Linked DNA regions of Homo sapiens: regions 1 and 3 are each linked to region 2. The links come from fine-mapping of genetic effects on gene expression. A gene starts in region 2. Each other region holds a variant in brackets. All regions are shown on one strand. Distances are from middle to middle.

Region 1 (10,162 bases), 170 kb before region 2:
TTGGGTGCAGTGTACACTGCTCAAGTGATGGCTGCACCAAAACCTCAGAAATCACACCTAAAGAACTTATCCATGTAACCAAACACCACCTGTTCCCCCAAAACTATTGAAATAACAATAAATAAATAAATGAAATGAAATACATAACATTTTGAAAATATTTCTATTAACAGTAAAAAAAGTCCTAATTTCTCTCAGTAAAGAAAGATTATGATTTTGTATTTTATTAACAACCATGTAATTTAGTAGGTCTCATTACTCTGAAAAATCTTTGGCATATTATTTTAGGCAACAAAAGAAATGGATGTTCAACTTTTACAGGTTGATTCAATAACTATGTTATTTTTACTCAACCAATTGAAAAATAAGACTGTCAAGCAGTGACCATCTGATTGCATGTATTTGTCTGTGCAAGTCTCCTGCATCACTTCAGATGTTCCTATCTGAAATCAGCAATATATTACCTTTTAAGAAGAATGTGAGTAGTAGCTGCCTTTTTTCTGTTACATCTGAAGCTAATTAGAAGTTACTTAAGCAGATTAGAAAAGGTTTTATGAGAAAAAGGGGAAAGGCAGTACTGTAACATTTTAAAGGCCTTGATGGGATTTATCTTTTAAATTCTTCCCTTCTTTAGGAGCTAAAGCTTAGACTTGATATGGCGTCTTCTCATTCTACTTATTCTGGACCTCAGACATTCATCATTCTTTTCCTCATTTCCCCCAGAGCATATATTTATTAAGAAGCATGAATTTATTAAACAAAAAAACATTTTTTTTGTTTTTTGTTTTTTGTTTGTTTTTTGTTTTTTGTTTTTTGGAGACAGGGTCTCTCTCTATTGCCCAAGCTGGAGTGCAGTGGCGCAATCTCGGCTCACTGCAACCTCTGCCTCCTGGGTTCAAGCGATTCTCGTGCCTCAGCTTCCCAAGTAGCTGGGATTACAGGTGTACTCCACCATGCCCAGCTAAGTTTTGTATTCTTAGTAGAGATGGGTTTTGCCACATTGGCCCGGCTGGTCTTGAACACACACAAGTGATCTGCCCCCCTCGGCCTCCCAAAGTGCTGGGATAATAGGCATGAGTCACCGCACCCAGCCAAAACTGTGTTTCTTTAATGAAAGTCAGCTATACTATTAATATTTAGAATGGACATTATGGTATTTTCCTCTACACAAAGTAATTATGCTATTTCTTCTCCTAGAATTGGGGTGATGTTCCAAGCATTAGATAATAGCTTATTATATGATTCTGTGTCACTTGAGAGAAATTTTACCTGTTTTTGTAAAACAGCCCTGTTCTCTGGTGACTTGATTATTCAAAGCCAGATAATAACCACAACAAATATTTGTGGCATTTTGCCATTCAAGGAAATGGCGAACTCACATATTCTCCTGTGTTGTTTCAAACTGAAAGTAGGTCACTGTTGTAAGGTTCCATTAAGAAAATATATCAAATTTAATCTTGGGAGTTTTAAGTTGGCAAATTATTGCCAGCAACAAGAGAAATAATTCTTTTCCTAGTACAATTTTATTTCCAGAAAAAATGAGTTAAAGAGAAAAACATATCGCTTAAGAAAAGGTAATGATTTACATTCATTATTTCCTTCCTTCCAGAACTATTTGTTGAGTGTCTACAATGGGCCAGACCCTAGGATAACAACACAAACAAGGCCCTTGCTATCAAGCTGCTTAGGTAAATTGTAGTGGGCAGAGATGGACAAGCAAGTTCACAAATAAATAGAAAACGTAATTGTAGACAGTGATGAGTGTTATGCACATAATAAAACCAGATTATGTATTAGGAAAGATGAGTAAGTGGAGATGCTACATTAGATTAATTGACAAATAAGTCTTCTTTGAAGAGGTAACATTGCATCCCAGACTCAGCCAGGAACAAAAACTATGGGAAGGACCTTTCAGGCCCAGTACAAATGCTGTGAGATAGGAACAAACTTGACATACTTGAGGGACAGGAAAAAAAAAAAAAAAAAAGCCAGTGTATCTAATACGTATGAGCAAGCAGGAGAACAGCATGCGATAAGGGTGGATATGTAGCAAGAAGCCAGATAATACAAGGCTTTGAACACCATACTAAGGAGTTTGGATTTTATTTTAAGTGTCGTAGGAAGGCACAAGGAGTAACATGATATGGTCTACATTTTAAAAGATCCTTTGGGTGTTTGTTTAAAACTGGGCTCTAAGAGTAGCAAGAGTGAAGAAAGCAGGAAGACTAGGTGGCTATTGCAGTGATTGAGGTGGGAGATGGTGGTAACTTGGGCTCAGTTTGAAGTAACAGCTAACAAATATTTATTTTTTAAAAAGGATTAGTAGTGTGTCAGCATGTATAACTTTTTGGAACGCCTGAAATTCGGTGTTAATTTTTAAACTTTCCTATTCATGTGCATATTGTTTCAATGAGTAAAAAAAAGTCCGGTAGCACAGACAGATCTGCTGTCATCTTGGATCTTAGACTACCCCATGTTTTTCTATTGTGCCTTCTCTGCACTAATCAACTATTGGATATTTGCTTTTTTCATCAAACAAATTCCTTAAAAAGCGCTGAAATTCTTTAATACCACCAGATACATAGCAGCAATCTACTAATCTGTATTGGTACACAGGAAGCAAACATAGACAGTTCTTCAGTCATAAAAATCAGGAAGCCATGATGTTCCTAGTGTTTAACATACAAAAACAAATATCTAGTGTGAATCAATCCCAAAGCTCCCACATATTGTGAGTTTTCACAGAAGATCATTTCCAAGAAACTATTTCAGGTTTCTGTGATACTTTAATCACATACCGATAGCATTAAGATATGAAGGCACAGCTAGACAAGCAAGACTTAATTCTCACTACAGGCAGGAATATAGTAGTTGTCAAGGGGATTGCAGGATGTGTACTATCTAGTACTTAATCAAGTAAAATCTATATACCTTACTACTAACATGGTGAACAGTCTATCACATTAAATGGTTTCAAGCACAAAGGCAGAAAAAATGCAAGGACTGCTTCTAAGATTGTAGAAGGCATGAGTGGTAAAATATAGTCAATTATCACTTTTTCAAAAGATGAAACTCTGATTCCTTTCACAATTAGAACTGACTATAATGATAGAATGCCTAAAGTATAGTGTGTGTTTCAGTCCTATAACTGGACAAACAAAATGTAAATGATGCCAGAAAGAAACATCCTCCCGCAAGGCCTGAAAATCTCCTCTTCCAAACTGAATGCCTTATTTTGGGTTAGTGGAATAGGTATTTTCCAGAGTTCACATGAGGACAAAGTATTAACAGCTCATCTCAGAAAAGGCAGCAGTACTAAAATGTGTGCAGTAACAGTCTTCATAATTATTTATCATGATAAAATAGTTCAATTCAGATCCAGAAGTTCAGTTCCTGCCTTCAACAACAGAGTATTAATATTACTGTTGCAGGTAATATTTTTAAAAATAACATTGACATAGAAGGTTTTAAATTTTTATCAGTTTTGCAGTTCTAAAGTTCTGTTTTATATTAATATGTCCTCACAGCAACCCTGTGAGAGAGACATTATTCTTTTTAATTTAAACTATATGGAAAGATCAAAGCTCATAGAACTTAATGATTTACTTAAGTCACAAGTTTGGAAAGGACAATGTCAGAATCATAATTCAGGTCTTCTAATTCTCTGTCCAGGGTTCCTAATAAATCCTGTGAGTCTCATAGAAATATAGTTAAGACATGATGTCACAATTGAACTGGTAATTATTTTTTTCTCTTTTAAAGTATATGAAATAGCATGGTGTGTTATAATTGATGGCACCTTAGATTTGGTGAAATATGATGACCTCTCTGAGTATTCGCTTCCTGTCTCTGAAGTCAGGGTACAGTCTTCATATGATTTTCTCAAGGATTAAGTGACCTACTATGAAAGTGTTTTGCTCTGTAACTATAGGTTTATGGGGGTTTTGTGTGTTTGGGTTTTGTTTTGTTTTGTGTTTTTAGACAAGGTTCATGCTGTTGCCCATGCTGGAGTGCAGTGGTGTGATCACAGCTCACTGCAGCCTCAATCTCCCTGGCTCAGGTGATCCTCCCACCTCAGCCTCCTAAGTAGCTGGAACTGCAGGCACACACCACCACGCCTAGCTAATTTTTTGGTATTTTTTGTAGAGATGGGATTTTGCCATGTTGTCCAGGCTGGAGTTTATGTTTTAGAGTTCACTTTTTATTTTAATTCGAATCATTCAATAAAATATACCTCATCTTACCTAATTTTCATGACTTACAAATATTCAGGATAAAGCAATAGATTGCATTGCCTCAAGAAGCTTTAGTAGTTTTCAATCTGCTATAAGATATCTCCCTCATTGATAACATTGATTTTCTCAGGAGATAGGATTGGGAGATTATCTGTTTTTTTATTGGAAACTTTCATATTGCTTTTTTTTTTTTTTAAGAATAAGCATTTGTTACTGCTGAACTTTAAAGCTTATTTTTTTAAGTAAAAGAATTTTTAAGCATCATGGAGATCTCACAGTAAGAAACAAAAGCTCTCTTTGGGACTATTTGCGTAACAATACATAAAAAGGTAATAATAAATGTTCCTAGGTAAAGACCTTAAAACTGGGGATGCACTCCTCCATAAAGTGAGCTTAAACCTCCAGACAGAGTTAATAGCTCTTTGCTCAAACCTGTATTATTGCTCTTTTCATATTGCCTTGTAATTATCTATTTGTATGTTTTTCTTCTCACTGAATTTTGTCCTAAACTGCTTTGCATCTTTAGTGACAAACACTGTGCTGACCTCATAATAAATAAATAATAAATCTTTGTTGAATGAAAAAAAATGAAGATGTAAAGTCAACAACTGAATCTTTAATATTTTTTTTCTGAAAATGTGAGACCTTATCCAACCAGCATTATTGATAAAAATTATAAAGCAATTAGTTCTTGGGACTACACAGTGCTATTTGTGTTTCTCATTTCTTTTATAATAACTGCAGAATCTAATGAAAGTTAAAGTCAAAAGTAGAATAGGGAAAATATTCAGAGTGAGAAAACTTGCTTCTTAGACAAGTTATTTTACAACCTTAAGTAAATTATTCAACCTCACTTTTGCCCCATTTATAAAATGGTAAAAATGATGTATTTGTCTCTAAGCATTATAGGATAAAAATAAAGTAACATTTGTAAAAAATTGCCTGTAGTTGACCGGGCGCGGTGGCTCATGCCTGTAATCCCAGCACTTTGGGGGGCCAAGGCGGGCGGATCACGAGGTCAGGAGATCGAGACCATCCTGGCTAACACGGTGAAACCCCGTCTCTACTAAAAATATAAAAAATTAGCTGGGCGTGGTGGCGGGTGCCTGTAGTATCAGCTACTCAGGAGGCTGAGGCAGGAGAATGGCATGAACCCGGGAGGCGGAGCTTGCA[A/G]TGAGCTGAGGTTGTGCCACTGCACTCCAGCCTGGGCAACAGAGCAAGACTCCATCTCAAAAAAAAAAAAATTGCCTGTAGTTTTTACTACAGATAAATGAAATAAATTAGTTCACACCCTAATTCTATTTTTATCAAAAAAGTAGATTCATTTTTACTTGTAGAGAAGCAGAGTAGTGAAAAGATCATACGCTATAAGGTTCCAATGCCAACTCTATGGCATAATAGATTTGGCTTTGAGAATTCTATAAGCTGGCTGAGTCTCATTTTTTTTCATCTATGAAGATGGAGATATCACCAATCCATAGGGTTGTCCTGAGGATTAAAGCTAATGTATCTGAAGTGGCCAGCTCATTGAAAATATTATGGCTCACATCTGGTAGGTACTTAATATCACCATTATCATCATCATCATTATAATCTTCTTTGTTCATTGTCATTGTGTAAAAGGATTATTTTGTCCTTACAGCCTTAAACCATTCTCTTCCGCACCTCCTTTTTTTTGAGAACTGGAAACCCTGGAAGATAATGAACAATTTCTACTAATGTCGATTTATATGATCTATCGTTACATTACTTCTCTGAGAACACGTGAGAAACCGTGTGCTAAAACCCTGGAAAGCAATTGCAAAGTAACATTTCATGCTTTCAAGTGGCAGTAATTTTGGGTAGGAAACCAGTCTTCAACTCAAATTTACTTAATGGATATAAAGATTGAAATAATAAAGAAGTTTATGTCTAACTAGCAGCCTCAAAGGCCCTCTGGAAACATTTCATACAGTCTTATATATGGAATGAAGGAGGCCTTGCTGAACTTGTTTAGAAAATGGAAATACTAAAATTGCATAGGAATGAGGTCTAAATACCCAGTAGCTCTCTGCAAACCCATAAACTAGATATTCACAGGCATTTCATCCATGTGAGGCAGGAGTAAGCCATATAGCTCTCTGAAGGAAAAGTGTTCCAGACAGAGGGAACAGCAAGTGGAAAGGCCCTGAGGCAGGAGTGTGCCTGATGTGTTTGAGAAAAGCAAAGAGGATAGTTTGGATTGAGAGGTCCAGTTCATTCTGTCGTTAAGCCCTCAGTTTAATTGCCTACTATCAGAAAGGCCTTACCTAATCACCTGTCTAATGTTGACCTTCTCTCCACCTCCAGTACTCTATTTCACTCCCCTGTTTTATTCTCTTCACAGCACTTTATTTTTTGTTTGTTTACTTGTTTATTTTCTACCTCCTTTAGTAAAATGTAAGCTTCTTGAGAACAGTGATCTTGAACGTCTTCTTTACCACAATTAGCTAACACCTAGAACAGTGCCTGGTACCTGGCACATATTCAAGAGACACTCATATTTTTTATTGTGCTTAATATCTGTTTAGTAAGCACATTTAATATTTAACAGATGAATGTTGAATATATATATTTTAATTTCATTTACTTAGGAATGAACTTAAAACAATGAGGCACCATTTTTATTCACCAGAGTGCCATATATTAACAATGATTGGTCATCTATAGTGTTAGTAAATATGTGAGGAAACCAGCATACTCATACACTGTTAATAGTTGTTTACTCGATTCAGCTTTTTTGGAGCGCAGTCTAACTGTGTCTCTAGGAATCTAAATGTACATTTTTTGACGCTTCAGTTTCACTTCCGAAGTCTATACAGAAATACCCATTTATATGCATAAATATAAAGATTATAATGATGTATTGGTTAATGACAAGGATATATTCTGAGAATACATCATTAGGCAATGTCATCATTGTGCAAATATCATATTGTATTCAAACAAACCTAGGTGGTATAGCCTACTATCTACTTAGGCTATATGGCATATAGCCTATTGATCCTAGGCTTCAAGTATGTATAGCAGAAACTGTACTGAATACTGTATGCAATTATAACATAATGCTAAGTATTTGTGTATCTAAACATGGGAAAGGTACAGCAAAAATACAGTATTATTATCCTATGGGATCACTGCTACAAATGTGGTCTGTCATTGACTGAAACATGGTTATACAGTGCATGACTCTACCTACTTGCATGTACAAATAGATCTCAAATAGTCTATTCTTTCCACAAATATTTGTTGAATACAATTTATCAGGCACTAAGAACATAGGCCAGCTTTGCTAATGTCCTTTAGTACAAAGCAAGCAGCTGAAGCTCGGTATTGAAGTAGGTAAAACTTGGAGGAAGAACAGAATCAACTCTTGTGTATATAGATCCTAAGTAGGTACCACGTACCATCTGCTGAGACTTTCTGATTAAAATATTTCTGTCGAAGATTATACCTTTTTTTCAGAGCAACACACCTTATAGAAGGGGAATAAGACTACAGACAAAGTTTCCTGTACAGAAAGTCATGACTATGAGTGAGGATGATACACCATAATGAGCATGAGAGATGAAAAAAGGGAGAAACTAAAGTAAAACCATTAGAGTGAACCTCAACCAGCCCAGGCATAAAAGGAGCATGAATGATGCCTTCTGAAAGTGGATCATTAGTGCCTGCCAACCTGTTGCAATACTGAAGCACTGCAACTATTTTATTATCTGCTGGAATTGTATTTCTACCAAAAGATACTAAAGAGGGTGTGATTGTTTAATTATGTACATATCTGGATATATATTACAGACTCCATGGGCACAGTTTTGTTTTGTCTTGTTTTGTTTTAAACTTGGCTAAAATGAATTTATTATCATGTTTAGAGACTGTGGATGGGAACGTAGCTTGTAGGGTAAGAAATCCTAAAAGGTTAACACTACCGTGTACAATTACTTATAGCCTCAATAAGGAAAAAGCGTGAAAGTACTCAAGTAAATCAAGGGAAGCTTCACAGAATTCTTTGATGAACTTACATGTTTAAACAAATATACAAAAGATGGACAAAGAAACAACCTAGAACTAACAAAAACTTTTACACATAGTGTTAGGGAAGTTAAGGCCAGGATTAACTTAAACTTTGAAAAATAAAGGTGAGAAGAACTACATTTAAAGCAGTAATGACAAAGTAGAAGACTTGGTTTTTAAAGGTAATATAAAGGGGAAGAGTCTAAGTGTTGTGTTGGACAGACTCTTTGGGTGGTTTCCATGATTCCTGTTTCCTGATGTTCATGCCTTTGTGTGATCCTCTCCCTTGGAGTATGTTTGAGACCTGTGATTTGCTTGTAACTATACAATACAGCAAAGTCACAGGTTGTACATGACTATATTGCATGAGATTTTAGTGCCAATTTTGCTGGAATCTTGCACTCTTTACTGGCTTCAAAGACATGAGCTGCTATGTTAGGAGACTCATGACAAGGAGCTGAGGACAGTCTCCGGATGAATCCTTCAGTGCTCCCCAGTCAAGCCTCAGATGAGACCACAGCCATGCTCAACCTGTAGATTGAAGCCTTATGAGATCCTAAGCAGAGGACTCAGCTAAGCCATGTCCAGACTCCTGTCCTACAGAAACCATGAGATAATATACATGTATTGTTTATGCTGCTATATGTGTGGTAGTTTGTTACACCACAATATAAATTAACACCATAAACTATTGCCATTTGCCTCTGTCTTCCCAGTGGGAAAATGACCTTCACAGTGGCAAGGCTAGAATTTTTCCTGGAATAAAAAATATTCTTCTGTTGGAATAAGGGATACAAATTACATTCTTAGGGCTTTTAGGCACTCTTCAGACTCCTTATGAGAGATAAACACCCTCCCTACCCCTTTGACACTTTTCTATCTAATCAAAAGAAATTTGGGGGAATTAGAAGGGTGATTTTTTACCATCTTAATTAAGACACCAGCCTCCAGAACCAAACAGCAGCTGTTGTATTAGAAATACCACTATGAATCTTCCTGAGAGAAATAGCTCTCCCTCCTTACCATCTGATGTTGTCTCATTCAGCTTAACACTTCTAGTACCTATCATGGTGCTTGACACATAGTTGATACTCAATGATTAATGAATGAATTCCTCATTAAGTTATCTCATCCATGCATTCAATAAGAAAGAGGGAAATTCACCCTTTGCTGTAGCACATTTCCTTCTTAGACTTTTGGGAATGAAAAAGCATACATGATATTTATTTATGTACAAGGAAGCATGAATGAACCATGAGAATACAGACATGAGTGAACTGCTTTTGTAAATAAAAGGAGCTTTAAAAACCTAATGTGAATTCTGATTACTTCATAGTTCTCTTTATTTTTTCTCGATCTACAGAGTTGTATATAGTTTTGTTTGAGACATGTTCAGAGTTAGTAAATGCCAAAAGCTTGTCTGATTCCAAATGATACTGACATAATGGACTCATTTGTTATGTCTGTGTTCTCTATCTTTGCATCACATAAAAGTACAAATGTTTTTATAACGACAATAATTGAAAATGAAATGCCTTTATCTTTTTCTTCATTTATTTTTAGCTTCCTTCTTTGTACACCCATGATGAAAACAGTTTTAGCATTATTTATTCCTGTTGAATGCCTGGTACATTGTATCTCGTTACTAGCAATTTGTGAACTCTCATTTTTTTTTTTTTATACTTTAAGCTCTGGGATACATGTACAGAATTTGCAGTGTTGTTACATGGGTATACACATGCCATGGTGGTTTGCTGCAGCCATCAACCCGTTATCTACATTAGGTATTTCTCCTAATGCTATCCCTCCCCCAGCCCTCCACCCCAAGACAGGCCCTAGTGTGTGATGTTTCCCTCCCTGTGTCCATGTGTTCTCGTTGTTTAACTCCCACTTAT
Region 2 (10,162 bases):
GGCATTCCCAACAAATGTTTTATTGTTTTGGTTTCCATGATCCTACACCAAGTGAAGAGATTTGAGGGTCTCCAGTAGTTAAGCTAATTAGATATAATTTTCCTTTTTGGTGCTTTAGCTGAGTTAGAGGTTTCAGGAAGGAGAGAAGGAAGAAGCCTGGGTTAGGCATATCTAGCCTAACTCCCACGTGATGCCTTTCACTTCTGAATTAATTCCCTGGATAAAGTACCCTTTCTGACAACGAGATAAACAGGTTCATCCAGAGGTTTGGCTCACTAGACTATAAAGCCCTTCATAACCACAGTGCTCGTCTCCATCCACCCCAGGCTCCTAGCCCCAAGTAGGCTACAGTGGCAGGCATTGTGTGCTCAACAAGGCTTCACACCCACTGGGAATCTGAAACATAAACACTGCTTACACTGCAAAGTTCTCTCTGCAGACCTGCAAGGCTGGTGCCAAAATGGCTGCCTCACGTCTGCCCCCACCGGGCTGCACAAAGGACTCCCCACCCAATCTCACTATCAAAACCTCTGAAATGACAGGACAGGTGGCAACCACTGGCTGGGCAAAAGGCTGATTTCCAGAACTTCAGAGGAGAGCTGTGCTGGCATCCTTTAAGAAGTTGATTCTGGGGAACGTTTCTTCTATGGTCATTCCTATTTTTAGGACAGTTTTAAACCTCCAGAGCTTCTGCTATTCCTTTCTCCTTGAAGGGCCAACTGAAGGGTTTTTCAGTGGCTTGTCAAATGTTCTTTATCTAGTATTTGTTTGTTCGAATTTCTCTAACAAAGAGGTTTAGTTTTGACTTACTGTTTAAGCACATGCAGGTTAAGACAGGAGCACTGAGGCATTACTAGTTGTAACCAAAGACATCCAATAGGCTTAATTATTTGCTCATACACAAAAAAGCAAATTGGATAATGCCTCTGCTTTTGGCTCTTATCTAACTTAATGTGGACAACTTTGTAGAGGTCTTGTCAACAAACTGAATGAGCCACTGAAAGTGAGGCATTCATTTTAGCCGTAAACTTTGGTGAACTTTTTTCTGTTGCTGGATATGAATCAGATCCCAGGAAACTTAGAAAGAACATAGAAATAGCATTATTCTGTCCTTAGTGATAAAATACCCATTTTTCCTCGGGATCAAAAGTTTGGGTCACCCACAAATACACAGTCAAATAATTGTCAGCAATAACATCAAAAGAATTCAAGGGGGGGCCGGGCGCGGTGGCTCACGCCTGTAATCCCAGCACTCTGGGAAGCCAAGGTCCACGGATCACCTGAGGTCGGGAGTTCGAGACCAGCCTGGCCAACATGGAGAACCCCGTCGCTACTAAAAATATTAATACTAAATACTAATACCCCATCGCTACTAAAAATACTAATAAAAATTGCCGGATGTGGCGGCTGGTGCCTGTAATCCCAGCTACTCAGGAGGCTGAGGCAGGAGAATTGCTTGAACCTAGGAGGCGGAGGTTGCGGTGAGCTGAGATCACGCCATTGCACTCCAGTCTGGGCAACAAGAGCGAGACTCCATCTCAAAACAAAACAAAACAAACAACAACAACAAACAATTCAAGGGGGAAATGAAAGTCTAAAACAATTGGATATCCCCATGAGTAAAACCAACCTTAATCCTTACCTCATAGTATACACAAAAATTAATTTGAAATGGGTCATAAGGCTAAATGAAAAAGCTTAAACTATGAAAGTTATAAAGGAAAGTATAGGAGAATATCTCCAGAACTCAGGAGTAGTCAAAAGTTTCCTAGTTCATAGCAAGCAATAATCATGAAAAACAAATTGATAAATTGAACTTTGTCAAAATTAAAAACTGCTCATGGAAAGACGTTATTATAAAAACTAATCAGCAAGCCACAGATTGGAAGAAAATATTCACAACACACAAACATCTGACAAAGAGACTATCCAAAGTATATAAAAGAACTCCTAAAATTCAGTAATCAAAAGATAACCAAATTCAAAAATGGGCAAGAGACTTGAACAGGAAGATGTACAAGCTACTAAGAAGCACATGAAGTAGCACATGCCATCATTTTTCATCAGGAAAATTCAGATGAAAGGTCCATTGAGAACTGACTATCCACCCACTAGAATGGCTACAAGTTTTAAGAGAAACTGACACCACTAAATATTGGTGAGGCGCTAGAACAACCAGAACTCTCATATACTGCTGCTGGAAATGCAGGACAATTTACCTGCTTCAGAAGACTATAGAAGAGCTTCTTCTAAAGTAAAACACACATCTTTTCTATGATCCAGTAATCCTACTCCTATTTGTTTATCCAAGAGAAAGGAAAGCATGTGTTCACAAAAGAACTCAGACAAGAATTCTCATAAACATTTTATTCATGCCTAAAAACTGGAAACAACCCAAATGTCCACCAATACAACAGATAAACTTTTGTATATTCATAGAGCGGAATACTACTCACTAATATAAAGAAATGAACTATATGCAACATTGGTGAATGTCTAAAATACTGTGCAGAGTGAAAGAAGCTACACACAAGAGAGTATATACAGTATGATTTCACTTGTATGAAATTATAAAACAAGCAAAATGAATCTATGGTGTAAGGAGGCCATGTAAAGAGAAAGAGAAGGCCAGCCAGCCCAGTATCCCAGCTGAGCCTAACCTAGATTGCAGAATAATGAGAAATAATAAAATGATTGTTGTTTTAAGCCACTAGGTTTTGGAGTGATCTGTTACACAGCAATCAATAATCAGCATCATTGCTTTCCTCATGGAATTGTCAGAAGTATGTGATATGACACATATGGAAGGGCTCTGTAAGTGGACAAGTGCTAAGCACTTGTGAGCGGCAGTTATCTCTGGGCATATGTGCAGATTGGGGTTAGTGCTCATTAGGGATATGTCCATTTGAGAATTAACCTGTGGAATTCAGAGGGTCTTACTACCCAACCAATATAACCTTTGGTTTCTTCTATCCCTCTCCTTCCTCTTGAGCAGCCATCCACAACTGCTTCTGGGGAAGAGAGAGAGAGAAAGAGAAAGAAAGATGTTCATGGTTTGTTAAAAAAATAAAAGAAAATAACATTTACAAATGGCCAGAGTAGAAAAGATGTACCAATTTCATTTATCTTGTTAAGGAATGGGGCTAGATTGAAGATTAGCCAATGCTTATAATTTTTGAGGCTCTAAGAAATACCTTTGAAGTTAGAGAAGGATGGAGAGAAGTGAGAGGGAGTCACCATGGTCTAAGGGGCTGGTCCTCAATCTGGTCCGTGACATGTTGATCAGGCTCAGGGAAATTAAATTAAATGAACCAAATTCCCAAGAAACTGCTTGATCAACCAGAACGCCAGTTTATCCACTTGCAATGAGAAATGCAATTTCCAAGCCACAGTATTTGGTTCTGTCAGGTGGTAAGGAGAAGATTACCCTGGGAAACCAGATTACTTGACCTGGTAAGAGTTTCATGTCTGGAAACATGGGGAAGTGAGGACATGCGGAGAATCATGAGCAGGTGGAGCACTTTGGGCGTGCTGAGTAATGTCAGTGGACTGTTACACAAAGCTTAGGTAACGCATCTTTCATGCACCTGGAATCTGCAATCTAACAGATTTCTAACCAGGCTGAGAGGATGCTCTCAGTCCTGCCAGTTTATGGACTTACAGGGATGTAAGGAACTCAAGACAGGGAAATAGCCTCTGTCTCCAAAAGGATAGCGGAGATGAGGTCCCTTTTTTATTTTTTAAAAAAACAATATAATATAATTGATGGATTCAGACCGTTCACGAGAGACTATTACCTCCACGCCCAGCTCAGGCACCTTCTCTAGAATCCCTTTCCTAATAATGTAAGTGCCCCTGTCACCTCCATCTATCCATTTTTGTTCTTTTAAGCCTATTTTATATTATTTGCTTATATGCCAAACCCTAAACGATGAGTTCTTGAAGGTTAAAATTATGTTTTATTCATCTTTTTTCACTAGCCCCCGCATAGTCGCTGGCATACATACCGTGGTGCTCAATAAATGCATGTGGCATTAACTAAAAGTTTGCTGTTTCTGGAATTCGTCTGAAACCTGAAACACTGCAACAACATCTCACTTAGAATGTTGCCTTACCCTTTTGCCATAATTTTAGAGTGAGGAAGTAGAGGTCACTAGATTACGTGTCCTTTTATGAAGAACCTACAGCTCAGGGCAGAAAGGCACTTGCCGGAATCACCCTGCCAGGGAACTCTGAACCCCGCTGCGCCGCCGCTCCTGATCTCTGGGGTTTCAGGCGCCTCCTCTCTTACAACCCTCTCCTGGGGAAGTAAACCCCATCAAGACACCACCACATCCTTCCCCAGCGACTCAGCCTGGGGTCACAAAGGCCTTTACGTCCCACTGAAAAACGGTTTTCTTTCATTTGTGCCCATTCGTTCTTGCAGCCCCTTCCCCAGATCGAAGACTAGGGTCTTAGTAAGGAGAGGTAAGGAGGGAGGGGAAGAACCTGCCTGGCCCCCCGCGGAGCTCTGCAGGGGGCGTCGCGGCTGCACGCCAGCGCCCGCACCACCCCAGGCGGGAAGGGAGTTATCACACAGGGGGTCGCACGCAGATCTCGGGGACCGTGGGTGCCACGAGGTCAAACTGGCAGAGGGAGACGCTGCAGCTGCTGTAACAGCAAGGAAAGCCGAAGCCCCCTTAGGGGATACTTTACAAAATTATTTTAATCACCGTGCAAACCTAATAACTTGACCCAAGCGCAATCACCTGTATTCACCCAGAGTAAATATTCCTAAAATCCCGTTCAGTGTGTCTGTGTCTCTCCCGCCTCTTTCCGTTTCAGGCAAATGTCTACCCCCCCTCTCCCCCCACCGTTAACACCTCTCTGCAGCGTGGGAAACAGTGCCCAGCAGCTCAGTCCTCCGCTTCCCGCTCTGCTTTTTGCATCCCATTCGGACTTATAGGAAGTAGTTATTTTTTGGTGGTGGTGGAAACTGGGCAAGAAAGAAGACGCTAAGCTTGGCCGGGGCCAGGAGAAATATTGAGAAGGGTCGTTACCTTCCATCCGATCTAAACCAATCATCTCAAACTTGGCTACTCTTTGGAACCACCTGGGGAGCTTTAAAAATTATGGACGCCCTGATAGCACCGCAGAGGTTCTGATCTAATTGATCTGGGATGCGGCCTGGGTATCGCGATTTTTTTAAAACTCCTCAGGTTATTCCCAGCTTGAAAACTATGGATATAAATTTCTCATTCCTCTTCCCACCCAGACCAAAAAAAAAAAAAAAAATCTAAGCCTAAGTTGATGGCCCAGGGAATCTGGCACCTGCTCCCCTGCAACCAGCCAGTGCTGCAAGGTCCCCGAAAATCGGCGCGAGCGGCGACGCTAAACACGCGGCGGCGGGGCGAGCGGGCCAGGCGGGCGGTGCCGCGCGTGGCCCCGCCCCCGCACGCCTATGGGCGCGAGGTGCGGGCCCTGACGTCACTCTTGTCAGGGCCGCGGCACATGGGCGGCCGGATGCGCTGAGCCCGGCGCTGCGGGGCCGCGGAGCGCTGGGGAGCAGCGGCCGCCGGCGCGGGGAGGGGGGTGGGGTGGGACGGCGCACCGCCTCCGGTGCTGGCACTAGGGGCTGGGGTCGGCGCGGTGTCTTCTGCCCTTCTGCAGCCGTCGACATTTTTTTTTCTTTCTTTTTTTCAATTTTGAACATTTTGCAAAACGAGGGGTTCGAGGCAGGTGAGAGCATCCTGCACGTCGCCGGGGAGCCCGCGGGCACTTGGCGCGCTCTCCTGGGACCGTCTGCACTGGAAACCCGAAAGTTTTTTTTTAATATATATTTTTATGCAGATGTATTTATAAAGATATAAGTAATTTTTTTCTTCCCTTTTCTCCACCGCCTTGAGAGCGAGTACTTTTGGCAAAGGACGGAGGAAAAGCTCAGCAACATTTTAGGGGGCGGTTGTTTCTTTCTTATTTCTTTTTTTAAGGGGAAAAAATTTGAGTGCATCGCGATGGAGAAAATGTCCCGACCGCTCCCCCTGAATCCCACCTTTATCCCGCCTCCCTACGGCGTGCTCAGGTCCCTGCTGGAGAACCCGCTGAAGCTCCCCCTTCACCACGAAGACGGTGAGCGCTGCCGCGGCCCCGCTCCGGGAAGGGACGACGCTCCGGGGGTCCCCCTCCGCGGCCGGGCACGCCCGCTGGAGCATCCCCCAACCCCGCTCCCGCCCTGTCCCGCGGCGCCCCGGCCCCGCGCTGATGAAATTGAGGAGCTCACCCAGCACCCTTCCTCCCCTTCCTCCTCCTCCATGAAAGGGGAGGGACCCCTCCTGAGCTACATTTAAAAGAGCTTCGGGCACCCGGCCTCCCTGGGTCCCGCTCCTGCGGCGCGGGTGGGAGGTGTAACTTGACAGGTCAGGATCGTTCCCTAGAACGAGGCACACCCGCACGCAGAGCGAGCCCGCCTGCGGAGGGCAGAGCCTCCCGGGCTGGGGAGGAGAAACCCTGGGGCCTGGTTCTGTGCGGGGCAGGGGGCGGGGGTCGGCTTGAGGGAGGGGGTTTCACTGCGTAGCCTGGGTTTTGGGGTTGTGTTACAGCTTCTGTTACTGGTTAGTATTTGGAACTCACGAGGTGTGAGAGAAGACTCGTTTTCTTCTGGTGAAGGGTAGCTGAGAAAGCGGGGTGGGGGCTGGGGCCGGTGGGGGGAGTGGTCTCTCGGCGGGAAGCCGTGCACGCCTCCAGCGTTGACACTTTCCCGGTGCACTTTTTCTGGTGGGAGGGGAGAGCGGAGCAGGCTCACGTGTAACCGCGCAGGAGCCTCCTCTGGCTTGAGCCCTTTCTTGGTAAGTCCCAAACCTTCCCAAGACAACCTTGGCCTTAGCAGTAGAGGAGGGGTACGTGTGATGAGGCCCCAAACCCGGCTAAGTGATGCCACGGATTTGGGTTGATGCGATTTCATGCCTTCGGTATCACAGTAGCAAATGCGAACCGTGCGGCTCACAGTGTAAAGTTCTGAAAGGTTATTTGGCTACAAATAGCTTGGGAGTACTTGCACCTTCTTTTCTAGGAGAGGACAACCTGTTGCATTGCAAGAGTTTGCAATCTGCAGATGATAGCCAGGGACCCCTCCCTAACTATCCTTTAAGGAAGAGCATTTGGGAGGAAGGGGCTGCCTGCAGGCTTTTGCATCTGTGGGTGTTTTAAGTCAGATTTTCAGATGAGATGGTAGAGGGTTAGAATGGATGGCAGTGGAGGCTGTGTTTCTCTGAAGATGAAACTCAGAAGCAAATTCCTTAATCCCAGATTCCACCCACGACTGAATACTAGAATTGGCAAGATCCGGAATGCTTGTTAAAGACCTAATGGGCGAGCAGTACTTCCAGGTAGCAAATAGCTGCATACTTCCAACATAAATGTATAGAATAACTCACCTTTTCCAATAGCTCTGCTTTTGAAAGGTTTTGTAAATGCATACTCTTTGTAAATTGGATCATACTCAAATGTTTGGAGAAGAGAAGGAAGAAAACACTTTGTATTTTTTTAAACTCCTTTTGTAAAAATCAGTGTGCCCCAGTGGCTTTAGAAGCAAACACATGTGAGCTCAGAAAGTTCTCATTCTCTGCCAACATGAGGCATTGGTCAAGTTCCCTCAAGTCTCAGAGCCTCCGAGTCTTTGTTGTAAATGGAGGTAATTGTTATTTTGCAAGTTTATTGTGAGATTTTTGAGATAATATATGGAAAGAACCAGGTATCCAGTAGGTACTCTAAACATGATGTTAAAGAAGGGTGGAAGGTCCCTGCTTTACCAAAATTAAGACCACTAACTCACTGGCTTTGTAAGTCTGAATGACCTCCTATTGCTGCTGTGATGAATTCCTGGAAGATAATTCAAGCCTGGTTATTGGCTGTTGTTTTCTTAAAAATGACAGCAGTTGTATATAATCACAGATGTTATATTCCTATTTTAGGTTTAAGTTATTACTCTTCTCAAATAATGTGCTGAGACTGTTCTCTGGTTTTTATCCTAGATCAGCCTGTAGCCCTGCCCCAAGGACTAGTGCCTTCTTTCCAAAGTAAATAGGAAGATGTTGAAAAACAGGCAGAGATCCACGTCCTGCCTGAACTTTTAACTCTAGATCTACAAAAGACAGCAGCCAGAGAAGGACCCTGCCATTCGTGAGAAATAGTCTTATAACAGGCCAGGAAAAGTGATAAAAGAGCGGTATTGTTTTTCTTTTCTTTCTTTTTTTTTAAGTCCAGCTTTCCCTTCTTCTGCAGCATTTAGTAAAGATAAAGACAAGGAAAAGAAGCTGGATGATGAGAGTAACAGCCCGACGGTCCCCCAGTCGGCATTCCTGGGGCCTACCTTATGGGACAAAACCCTTCCCTATGACGGAGATACTTTCCAGTTGGAATACATGGACCTGGAGGAGTTTTTGTCAGAAAATGGCATTCCCCCCAGCCCATCTCAGCATGACCACAGCCCTCACCCTCCTGGGCTGCAGCCAGCTTCCTCGGCTGCCCCCTCGGTCATGGACCTCAGCAGCCGGGCCTCTGCACCCCTTCACCCTGGCATCCCATCTCCGAACTGTATGCAGAGCCCCATCAGACCAGGTAAGTGCCCTGAAGATTCTCCCTTCAGAAAGGGAGGAGGAGGGTGAATGGGACAGGCAAGGTAGAGTTAGCATAAACATCTTAACACTCAGGTTTTAGCAAAGATCCTAAGAGAGGTACCTTCTTCTGCTCCACTCCTGGCAGAGGCTCTCCCACTTTAATGAGCATCCATATCACTCATCTGGAGAGTCCGGTAAATACAGACTCTTTGTATCTACCCCTAGAAATTCTGATTTTGCAAGTCTGGAATGAGGGCCCAGGAATATGCATTTTAACCAGCTCCCCCATGGGATTCTAATGCAGCTGATCCAAGGGCTGCAGTTTAAGAAATAACTTACAGTTAATGATTTGGATAATTTAAGCCTCCATCGCATCTTGTATCTCTTTTCCTCATTCCCTAAACACGTAGATAACAGGTAGACTCTCAATAGGGTTTGGTTTACCTATATTCACTCTTGTCTGTCCTGAAGGAAAAAAAATGTGAGTAGGGATATGGGGCAGGTATTTTTTTTTCCATCCTTTTCATCTTGTTTTGTCATTAGCTGAGAAGTAGAATCTAAAAGCAGGCTCTCATATTGTGTTTCTGAGCCTTCTTCAGGACCAGACTCCATCTCTCTCGTTGCTATTCCCATAAACCCAACTGTTCTTATCTTTTTTTTTTTTTCATTTTCATCTGTCTATCACACTCAGTCCACCTGTATCAAAGCCCACAAGGCTGCAAGGTCAGCTGTAAATGATCTTGAAATAGTACACAAAAATATCACCTGAAATGACCAGTACTTCAAAACCCACTGCTAATGCTCAGATATAAACACAGATTGAAGGAGCTTTGAATTCATGCCTTTAGCACCCTGTAGTACCAAATGAACAGGAAGAAAGACGATTTCATGTGCACAGGTAACCAGGAACAAAGATTCAGCCAGATAAATCATCCGGAAGGTCACAGAGCTGAGGGCCTTAGCTGTGGGGGAAGACAGAAAGCAGGACAATGCGAAACTTGTGCTAGAGATTGTTACTGAACTCCGTGTCCTCGACTCTTGTAGAAATTTCTGTGGCACATGGAGCAAGATTTAAATGGAAGGAAATGATGTAAAGGAGGAAGAGAATACCCCTGCCTCGATATATTCATATTGAAGTTCCTCCTTTCAGACCTCTGTGTGCTGGCCCCTTCTCCAAAATTCACTTTGAATTATAACTCAAGGCCACTGGCTGGAATGGAATTAATTCTTAGCCTCCAGCCACCCCTGGAGGCTGTGGGAGCTTGGGAAAACATGCCTTTATGTGATCCTGATCCCCTGCTACTTAGAATGTGCGGTACCACTATCTTCAATTTTTTTGTAGGAACAAGCAACAAAATGAATAACCCTTCAAAGTGGGAAAACAGCCAGGAGAGAAGGGAACAGAGCCCCAGTGAGAGACACAGTTATGCCTCGGTCATTGTGCTCTGTAGACTGAGAATCACCACTTTGTAGCTGTGTGACCTTAGAAAGCAACATCATTTCTTGGAGCCTCAGTTTCCTTTTTTGTAGAAGGATACAATTTCTATTTGATTGAGTTATTGTGAAAA
Region 3 (10,162 bases), 140 kb before region 2:
CTTCCTTTCACCAACAGATATTGATTGAGTACCTGTGTGTCAGACACTGTATTGAATGAGGAATAAAACAGACACAGTCTTCCTGGAACATATGCTTTTTAGGGAATAACTGGACATTTTTTTGAAAGCTTACTGATGTAATTACATATAGTGGTAAGTGTTCTAAAGAGCAAAACTAAAACACTACTTATTTATTCAGCAAACATTTTTGAGGGCCTATGATATGTCACGCATTTTGCTAGGCCCATAGTATGCAAGGATGGATGAAACAGACATGATCCCTACCTTTATAGAGCTTATGATTTAAGTTGGAAAAGCAAACAATAAACAGGAAAATCAATATATATATAATTTCAAACTGAGGAAGTGCTGTGACTGTAGTGAACATGTTGCTCTGATAGAAATGGAGGAAGGACAAGAAAAGTCTGTCTTCATAGTAAGATTTAAGTTAAGATTTGAAAGATGAGTAGGAGCCAACCATCTAATGAGTTAAGGAGAAAGCATTCCAGACTGAAGCAAAGAGCTGCCTACTCAAAGAAATGAAAGGAGGCCAGAACAGATTTACTTATTATAACGAGGAGGATTGCAGACAGGATCAGCTTTTGAGAAATAAATTAAAACTTAACTTTGGAAAAAATTAAGTATAAGTTGCCTGTGAAACATTTAAGTCAAGATGTTATTGGCAAGTTGTCTATACCAGTCTGGAGTCAAAAGAAAGGGCTGGGATGGAGAAATAAATGTAAGAATCTTTAGCATATATATGGTTTTTAAAGCTATGAAAGTGGTGAGATCACCTAGGAGGAAAGTACATGTAGGGAAATAAAGAGGATCCAAGACTTAACACTAGGAACCTTTAGAGGTCTATTGAAAGAAGAAACTGGACTAAAAAGGAGTGTTCAGAAAGATAGAAGGAAAATTAGGCAAATGTACTATTATAGAAACCAAGAAAAATGGCTTTAAATACATGTGCTTTTCAGTAGTTAAGTAACTGTCCTGATAGTAATTTTTTAAAATTTTCTCAATAAATTATAAAAGACTCCATCACCATTAGTATTTTTTAGAACCACTTTCTCCAAAAAGTGGAAGCTGTATTAACTGATTTATATATATATATATATAAATATTTTATTATACTTTAAGTTCTAGGTTACATGTGCACAATGTATAGGTTTGTTACATACGTATACATGTGCCATGTTGGTGTGCTGCACCCATTAACTCGTCATTTACATTAGGTATATCTCCTAACTGATCTCTATTTTTAACCCACTTGCCAGATTAGCCAACTCATCCATTCTCGCTATAAAGCACATTGATGCCCATGGGCTTGTGCCTAAGAAGCCTCTCCCTGGTACTACCATGGACTTAAACTGCTACCAGTTAAAAAATATCATTTTTATTTTCAAAAGGATTGGTGCCATTTGTGCTTATTATAAATTAGTTATATGAATATGCAAAGAAAAAGTTGTTTCTACAAAAACTAAGTAGAATGCTTTAGAGAGATCTGATAATGGTGAGTTAATACTACTGATGGATTGTAAAGGAGTCATCTGTGAAAGATTGGGAGAAAATTATAGAAGTCTAGAAGGATTCTGCCCTTGGATTATTTTATAACCATTCTTAATTCTCAATCCACTTTAAAGAAACCCCATCTGGAAATGAGAGCTGATATATTTTTAGTATGATTTCTGAACAATACAAGAACCCTAGAACTAGAAGAACAATACAGAACACTAATCAGAAGTCAGTCAACAAAGACAAGACTTTGACCTAAAAAAGATTGGAAAATGAATATATATTTATGTGTTTTGATTTAAAAATATATAAGTATATAAAATAAAAATATATCCATAAGCATATGACACTGACAGTAAATCTTCTACTGTATCTAATACAGATAAACTTTAACTCAGTTTATGTTCTTTACCAAAATGTATTAATAAGTTATCATTGAATAAATGAAATCTTACAATATTAGTTAATTCCTTTCCTTTCATGCTTCTGATATTTAAATACCTCAAACAAAAAAATGAGTCTTTGGATATTTTGAATTTTCTAACCATATGCATATTGTGTTTCTATAGCTAGCCTTTGTATTTCTTTGCTTTAATTATACAGAAAACGTTTTAAAATGTATTTGATGACACATCACATAAAATCATTATAATCCCACCTTTATTGTTAACATATAGCCACAGTTAAGGTTACTAAAGTGTACTTCTCAAGTAGAAAATATTATAAGTTAAAGGTGTTCTTCCCTTATTTTCTGAAATCCTCTTTAAACTTAATTTCAAGCCTTTCCCAAGATGCTTAGAGGACATGAGAAAGAGTGATTTTTAATACTGCTACCTTTTAAATGTCAGTCTTTATTGTTCTATACATTTAGCTGCAAGCATTTGTTTTTTATCAATAATGTTTTCAAATTAAAATTCCATATTTAATAGTCAAATTGTCAGTGAGCCGTATGGGATGGCAAGTGAGCCCACATCACGTTCACACAAATGTTGGATAACCAAATACAGTGTTGGTAGTACCTACCTATAAATAATTACATTCCATTCTATTATGTGTTGCTTAGGAGGCAGCTTCCTGCCAGAGATATGTACACTGCTTTGAGACATGATTATTATATCTAGCATCAGAAGTCTGAGGTCATCAGATAGGAAAAATAGGAAGACAAATTTTGGCTCAATTGTGAGCAAGTATCTTGGACAATTAGACCCATTCAAAAATATGAAGCTCCAAGTTTACCATCATTACAAACAGAGCCTGGAGAAATCACAAAATACTTGTAGACATACTGGGTAAAAATGGAACTTCTGAAATCTTTTCTAAATGGCTGCTGCAGAGCATTGAGTATTTTGTGCAATAAGCAGAGGTCAAGGGAGTGCATTGGAGACTGAAATCCAGCCCTTGCTGTGTTCACTCAACTGGATGCTCTGGTACAGGACTGTGTTTCCTAGAAGAAAGAGTGTTTTTTTTTTAAGTAATTTGCACAGAAGGAACATTAGCCCTACAAGTTCCATGCCCTCAGAGTTGCATCAGCTCAAAGGAGGCACTATGTTCTAGCCCTTGCACACAGAAGTGGTGCCATTTTCAACACATGATGGAATTTTTTTCTTTAGTTTTTGCAACATAAACATAGGCTAGCAGTGGCCCTGTGTTTATACATGCTGGTTTTTCCTCCCATTTCCTTCCTTCTAACACTAAGCAAATGAAATGAATTAAATATTCAATTCGGAAAATAATTTTTCAGAACCTAGTATGACTGAGGAAGATTCAGTACCCTCAAAGAGCTAGCAGTCTGTGGGAAGAGAGGAGTAAAAGAGTTGTGAAAACTATTGTAATGCAAAGTTTAAGATATTAAGTATTTTATGAATGGTACAAAGAGCTAATAGCTCAGATAAATGAGAAAAAATATTTTAAAATCAAGAAAGCATTTATAGAGAATGAAACATTTAATGTTTGACTCTGAGAAATTTTGAATGGCAGTGATGGAACCAAAGTGAGGTTGGGGTGAATGGGAGATAAAGGAAAACTGTCATAATTGAAAAACACACTGAGAGAGAGATGAGATGCAAGATTGAAACATCTCATTATGTCATTATGAGCAACCACAATCTTGAGAAAATATCTCTGTGAATTATTAACTATGTACCCAATTGTGCTGATACCCTAGAATCCCCAGGGTCTCTGACATACTTATTTCAACAAACCTGGTAACCTTAATATCTTAATTAACCTTAATCCACTCTTCTGTTGTCTTTTTGTTTTTGTTTTTGTAATCTATGGCAGACTTGGTGTTTTGCCCTAGCCAGCCTGTTGTATTAGAAACTGTAAAGTCAGACAGTTGCCCTCTCAGGGGTAGCCTGCCTCACAGAGTGGCCACCCACCCCAGTTCTGGTCAATGAGTTATAAAGTAAAGTCTGCTTAGAAACTTCTGCTTGGGGAAACTTTTAATTAATGGATAAGGACAGATGGAGCTGGGACCACCTCTTGTTCTTTCCTGCCTTCAATACGAATATGTTGCCTATAGCACTGGGGGCTTTTTACGCCCCCAAGACGAAATGTGTAGGGATCAGCCACTTAACACCTAAAGGATACTAGAGTAGAAAGATGAAAAAACCTGAGACCTTCATGCTGTGTCTAGCAACCTTTAGGCTCCTTAAAAATAAATACCTATTTGTTTTCCCAGCTACTTGGGTTATCTGTCATTTTTACCAGAAATCATTCCTAACTAATATGCCACATTTTTTTCTAAATCCCTCCAGACAATATTGCTTTTTAAAAAATGTTGAAGATGTCTTACTTCTTGGGACATAAATCCTCAACAAACCGTTGTTAAACGTTTATTATGCACCAAAGCCTGAGCTGTGTACCAGAAAATGACACAAAGATGGATAAAACATAGTCATTGTCCACAATCATGTTTTCCACAGGAGAATGTTAAGTGCTGTGATAGAAACTGGTACAAACCACAGAAGTACCATAGAGGAGGGGAAGATGAAGTCAGCCAAAGAAATTAGGAGAGTATGCACAGAGGAAGTATCATCTAAGCTGATTCTAGATTGATGAGCAGAAGCTCACAAGGCAGATGAAAAGAAAGAGTAACTCTAGGAAGAGATAAATGAAGGAATGGAGTCTATATTGTACAAATGCAGAGATAAATGAAGGAATGTGGTCTACACTGGCAAAAGCAAAAAGTTGAGTTGGAACATTTTATGTTTACTTTATATCAGATATGGCTATATTTAAAAATGAATTCAGATTTTACTCCATGCAGTTAATTTTATAATTAATAGAAAGCAGTCCATTTAAATTCCATCTAGTTTGAATTTATAAAAATTATAACAAGAAGCACTCAAAAGTTTAGATTGTCAACTTACATATTGAGATATGTGTCTATGTGTGCTAATGGATGACTTCCAAAGCAGATTAAAATATTAAAATTATAAGGGGATTAAAGTAAAAGAAGAAACTTTTAAGTGCTTTTGAAGCACTCTTTTATAAATAAAGTTTTGAGTTACAAGTATTTTATCCAGTCATTAAAATATATCCTTAAAGAACATTATCTCAAATCAAAGTGTACTTAAAAGTAGAAAACCAAATTTTTTAATTAGAAAATCTTTTAGAGATTTTGCTAATTCCTCCTTTGTTTTATTCACATTTATGGGAGTTTATATTCCTTGTAAATGTGTTATCCCTCTCCTTTTTTGTCATCAGTTAAAGCAGACACACAATTTTAAGAAGAAAAGTATGCTCAAATTTTAATCTCAAAACTTGATTTGCCCAGAGAACCCCAAGATCTAACCTAGTAGTTAGATAAGTTCTTGCCAAAGTACTTTTCATATCAGGATCCCTAAACATAGCAGCTTTTGTGTGTGTGTGTCCAGTAACTTGTTAAGATAATTCAATAAAGGGGAAAATTTAAGGGAAGAGGTAGCAGAATTGGTGTCTGGCTTACTTGGTATGATGGACTGCATCAATTAAACCAAATCAATATGTCGAAATAAAAATGGACTATTTATAATTGCATGCAGGTTTTTTTCCTGAATTAATCAGAAATTACTATCACTGGTCAAATGAGAGATAATTCTCATATTTCCTAGCTTCTTGTTATATAGGTTTCTTTACTAAGTGCTGCCAGACGAAGAGAAGAGATAAAAGAGTTGCAATGTAGAAATTAAATATTGTGTTCTAACGTTACAATAATGGACTATATCTGACTGCAACAGCAAGCAGCAATGAGCAACAACAACGACAAATAGAATAGGATGGGCCAGGTGCGGTGGCTCATGCCTGTAATCCCAGCACTTTGGGAGGCTGAGGCGGGCAGATCATAAGGTCAGGAGATCGAGACCATCCTGGCTAAGACAGTGAAACCCCGTCTCTACTAAAAATACAAAAAATTAGCCAAGCAT[G/T]GTGGCCCGCGCCTATAGTCCCAGCTACTTGGTAGGCTGAGGCAGGAGAATCGCTTGAACCCAGGAGGCAGAGGTTGCAGTGAGCCGAGATTGCACCACGGCACTCCAACCTGGCGACAAAGCAAGACTCAGTCTCAAAAAAAAAAAAGAAGATAAAACGAGAAATATGACTTGAAACTCTAATGCATAATACACTTCTAACTGTACTTAACACCTCCTAATTTCTATTAATACCTTTTATTTGATAATGATTGGTTGCTATAAATCTAGGCTATGCTGGATTGTGTCAGCCTAAGATATGACAAGAAGGTCCCAAGCCAGTCACCATGGAAAGATCTTATCAAGGGTGTTTAGGTAAAAGGGACAGTGAGGCCCCATGACACCATGAGAAGAAATAGGAAAACAGCATTATATGGGGACTTGGGAGAATGAGATGGAGGTCCAAATGATAAGACAGGCTGTGAGGTTGGAAGATGTGCAAATTGAGAAAAGATGAGCAGAGGTTCATGATGGATCAGAAAGCTTAGTCTGCAAATAAAAGATATGTGTTCAGGCCTTACTTTTGCATGGTACCTGTTTACATGCTGTTTTGGAAGGCATGACCCTTTAAAGGCATTTGCAGAATAGACTGTGATATTTATTAATAGTTATATATAAACATTTTAAAAATAAGGTAGGGAATACAATGAGATTAAATGGTTTTAGAAACACTGTTTGCCTTCCAGCCTCACAATGGATCTGCTTCAAGTGCTACATTTATCCTTCAAATTTATTTTTTACTGCATTGATTGGTAGATTTTGTTTTTCTGAGTTCAACCTCTTTTAGAGAAGAATATGAGTTTACCTTTACAGTGTAGTCAGACTGAAGTAATTCTGTCAAGTAAGTTGATTTAACAGTGTGCAAAATTTGGATCCATTTTTATTGCTGTATTTGCTCAGGCTGCCATAACAAAATATCACAGCCTGAGAGGCTTAAACAACAAAATTTTATTTCTCACAATTCTGGAGACTAGAAGTCCAAGATCAAGGTGGTGGAAAAGTAAGCGTAAGCTTCATTCGAGATCTCTTCTCTTGGCTTGTAGGTGACTGCCATCTTGCTGTGTCTTCACATGACCCTTCTTTGTACATGCACACAGAGGAGGGGTGGGGTGGCTCTTGTCCCTGTTCTTCTGAGGACACTAACTTTGTGGAATCAAGGTCCTACTCTTTATGACCTCATTCAACCTTATTACTTCCTTAAAGGCCACACCTACAAATGCAGCCATATAGCAGGGGTGAGAGCTTTACCATAAGAATTTTTAGAGGACAGAAACATTCAGTTTATACCAATACTAAACTGTTAAGCAGGTGGTAATTAATCATTGAAAGTTAACGTACAATTTATTCATGTGTGAAAGAAAGGTCTGAGTGCAGCATTTTATACTCTGCACAGAAGCTGCTCTTTTCATTCAGCATTATTGCAGAATGACATAGTGGATGATGACTAAAGTAGAAGTTAGATTACTATGTTTTCCTCTAATTGACTCTATGGCAAAGCTCTGAAACCATTTTTGGTGTCAGTATCCAATTTGTAACATGAGACAATTAGAGGATTTCTAAAATCTCTTTTCACTCAAAAATTCTATGCATCTGAGAGTTCCACTTCCAGTAAGGCTAAGTAAGTTCCTGACAGACTAACCATCCTGCAGAAACCTATTGTAAACCCTGGACAAAATACAAAAAAAAAAAAAAAAAAAAATACAATTGAAGCTTCTGGAAAGTGAATATGACCAGGCAAATTCTGGAGATCTGTCAAAACTTGGAAGAAGGACCCAACATAGGATAAGTTTCCTGTTTGTCCTACTTTTAGATTGTTGGCAGGACCCAGGGCTGGGACTAGGATAAGGCAACAAGGTACCCTGGGTGCACCTCCCTCTTAAGGAGGCTCAGTCTCAAGTAGTGACCCTGAACTTGCATGAGCCTGAGGGAGGGTGTTTCCTTAAATTTTGTATGTAGACACTACTTGCCTCACTCTACTCCAAACCCTAGCAGGACACTTAGAGTGGTAAAACTGATAACTTGCAGTCTTTCTGGCCTATAGAACTAGCATATGAAGTTTGGGACAACTGGAAAGGCAGAGGGGAAATCCCGGAAAGAAGAGCACTGGAGACAGAGACCCCCAAATTCTGCATATAAACTCTGTCCAAGCTTCTGGGTCTGACCCCAAACTACACAAATATAGGGCGCATTGCAAACCACCCAGCAAAGGGGAATGGGGAGGGAAACTGAACTGAGGTTTTAGCTGCTGCCTAAGAAATAGAACTTACTGCTTGAGTCCAACCAACTAAATGACCTGCCAAAACAAAAAGATTAACATGCTTCAGAGTAGTGTAACAGAATCCAGAGTTTTTACAGTATAATGTTTATAATTTCCAGAAAACAATCCCAAATTACTCAGTGTGAAAACAAAAAACAGGAAAATGTAACTCATTCTCAAGAGAAAAGACAGTCAACAGATGCCAACCTCCAAAAGACCAGATGTTAAAATAAGGACTTTAAAGTGCTTGTTATACCTACATGCAATGAAGCGAAGGAAAACATGCTCATAATGAATGGAAAGAGAAGATCTCTAAGCAGAGAAATAGAAATAATTGTGTAAAACTAAATGGAAATGCTAAAAGTATAATACCTTTTAAAAAATCAGAACAGTTGGCTGCCTCTTGGGGCACAGAAGTAGAAATAAACAGGAATGGGATATTTCTGGGGTGGTGGTAATATTCTATACCATGATTGGGGTTTGGGTTGCACAGGTGTAAGCATTTGTGAAAATTCAGTAAATATACACTTAAGATTTGTACATTTCATTGTAAGCAAATTTTACATCAAAAGAAAGAATTTCTGGATAGATCTCCCAACTGAAGAAATCCCTAAATCAAAGACCTGCTAACAGCTAGACAAGGAGATTCTGGTGCGTGACTGTTGTCTCTGAAATCATTCCAAAGTGCTTACTGGGTTTCTATATTCCATAGTGATGAGCATTGCAGGTAGAAGGAACAGTATCTGGAAAAGCAGAGACGAAAAGAAGTCTATAGCATGCTCCAGGAAATAACTCAGTGGATGACATTAAGTGGGACTGACACAGCATAAAGATGAAAGGAAGATTGCAGCCATTTTGTAATGGGATTTCTCATACTGCAGCTTTTTTAATGGGATTGCACATACTACTGGTTCAGGATATTTCCCCTGCTTTTTAAAATTGAGATATAATTTACATACAATAAAATGTAAGTGTACAATTCACTGAGTTTTGACAAATGTAGACAGCTGCATTATACTACCACCATCATGCCCTAGAATATTTCCATCACCTCACAACCTTTCCATGTGCTCCTTTGTAATCTATTCCCTGCCATCCCTTGTCCCAGGCAGCCCTTGATTTGCTTTCTATCACTGTAGTTTTGCCTTTTCTGAAATGTGGAATAAATAGACTATTAAGTTTCTAGCTTCTTCCACTCAGTGTAGGGCTTTTGAGATTCATCCTTGTATGCGTAATGTTGAGTGGTATTCCATTATATTGTTATGCCACAGTTTATCCAGTCACCAATTGATGGATCTTCCAATTGTTTTCAATTTGGAGCTAGTATGAATAAAACTGTTGTGAACATTCAAGGATGTGACTTTCTGGGGATGCATGTTTTCAATGGTCTTTCAAGATTATTGAAAACATGGATTGACATATGTTAATCCATCCATGGATGGATTTAAATGATTAAATTTTTTGAGTGATAAACTATACAGTCAGAACCTATATTCTTTGCAGAAGAGAAAAAGCAAAATTGGGGTCACTTTTATTTAAGTTTATAACTCTTTAATGTAATGATTATTGAGTTATCTAACTTCATGAGAGCTATTATTTGAAAAAATAACCCTCTATGAAGGTGTTTTTATTGTTTTTCTTTAAATCTTTTTAAAAACACATTTAAAATTTTCAAGCATCCTCTTAAAGGCAAATGTCTTCAGGGATTTTTTATGATTTTTTTCCACATTTTACCTGAAAGTAATGTGAGATTGTTAACAGATTTTCAGATAAACTTTTTTTAATTTAAAGGACAAAGATAATAACAACAAATGCTACATGATTAGGGATCAGTGGTGTTTAGAGTTTCATTATGTATGTTCATTTATATTCAAGGTCGGAAACAGCAATGATCTTGACTTCATTTCATCTAGTCTGTGACAGCATTTCTAAAATTGTATGTCTA

Evidence for each region. PIP is the estimated chance that this variant, and not a neighbour inherited with it, causes the effect.
Region 1: its variant is the best candidate, but not a certain one, in a credible set for the expression of HLF in blood mononuclear cells (TOPMed, PIP 0.54).
Region 3: its variant is the best candidate, but not a certain one, in a credible set for the expression of HLF in whole blood (INTERVAL, PIP 0.56).

The regions. Positions count from the first base shown.
Region 1 is chr17:55,092,197-55,102,358 of GRCh38, forward strand. The region is part of intron 16 of STXBP4 (syntaxin binding protein 4); the gene reads left to right. LOC107985002 (a long non-coding RNA gene) reads left to right here. Exons shown (of 2, transcript XR_001752943.2): 1 at 1-478; 2 at 1,610-1,997. Among named protein-coding and RNA genes, the nearest start is that of STXBP4, 130 kb to the left of the region's middle. The variant A/G (reference allele first, on the strand shown) is at 5,409.
Region 2 is chr17:55,259,492-55,269,653 of GRCh38, forward strand. It overlaps HLF (HLF transcription factor, PAR bZIP family member), which reads left to right and starts at 5,469. Exons shown (of 4, transcript NM_002126.5): 1 at 5,469-6,108; 2 at 8,260-8,595. The coding sequence starts at 5,994. RefSeq lists a silencer at 5,273-5,592.
Region 3 is chr17:55,117,842-55,128,003 of GRCh38, forward strand. All of the region lies in intron 16 of STXBP4 (syntaxin binding protein 4), which reads left to right. Among named protein-coding and RNA genes, the nearest start is that of HLF, 140 kb to the right of the region's middle. The variant G/T (reference allele first, on the strand shown) is at 5,922.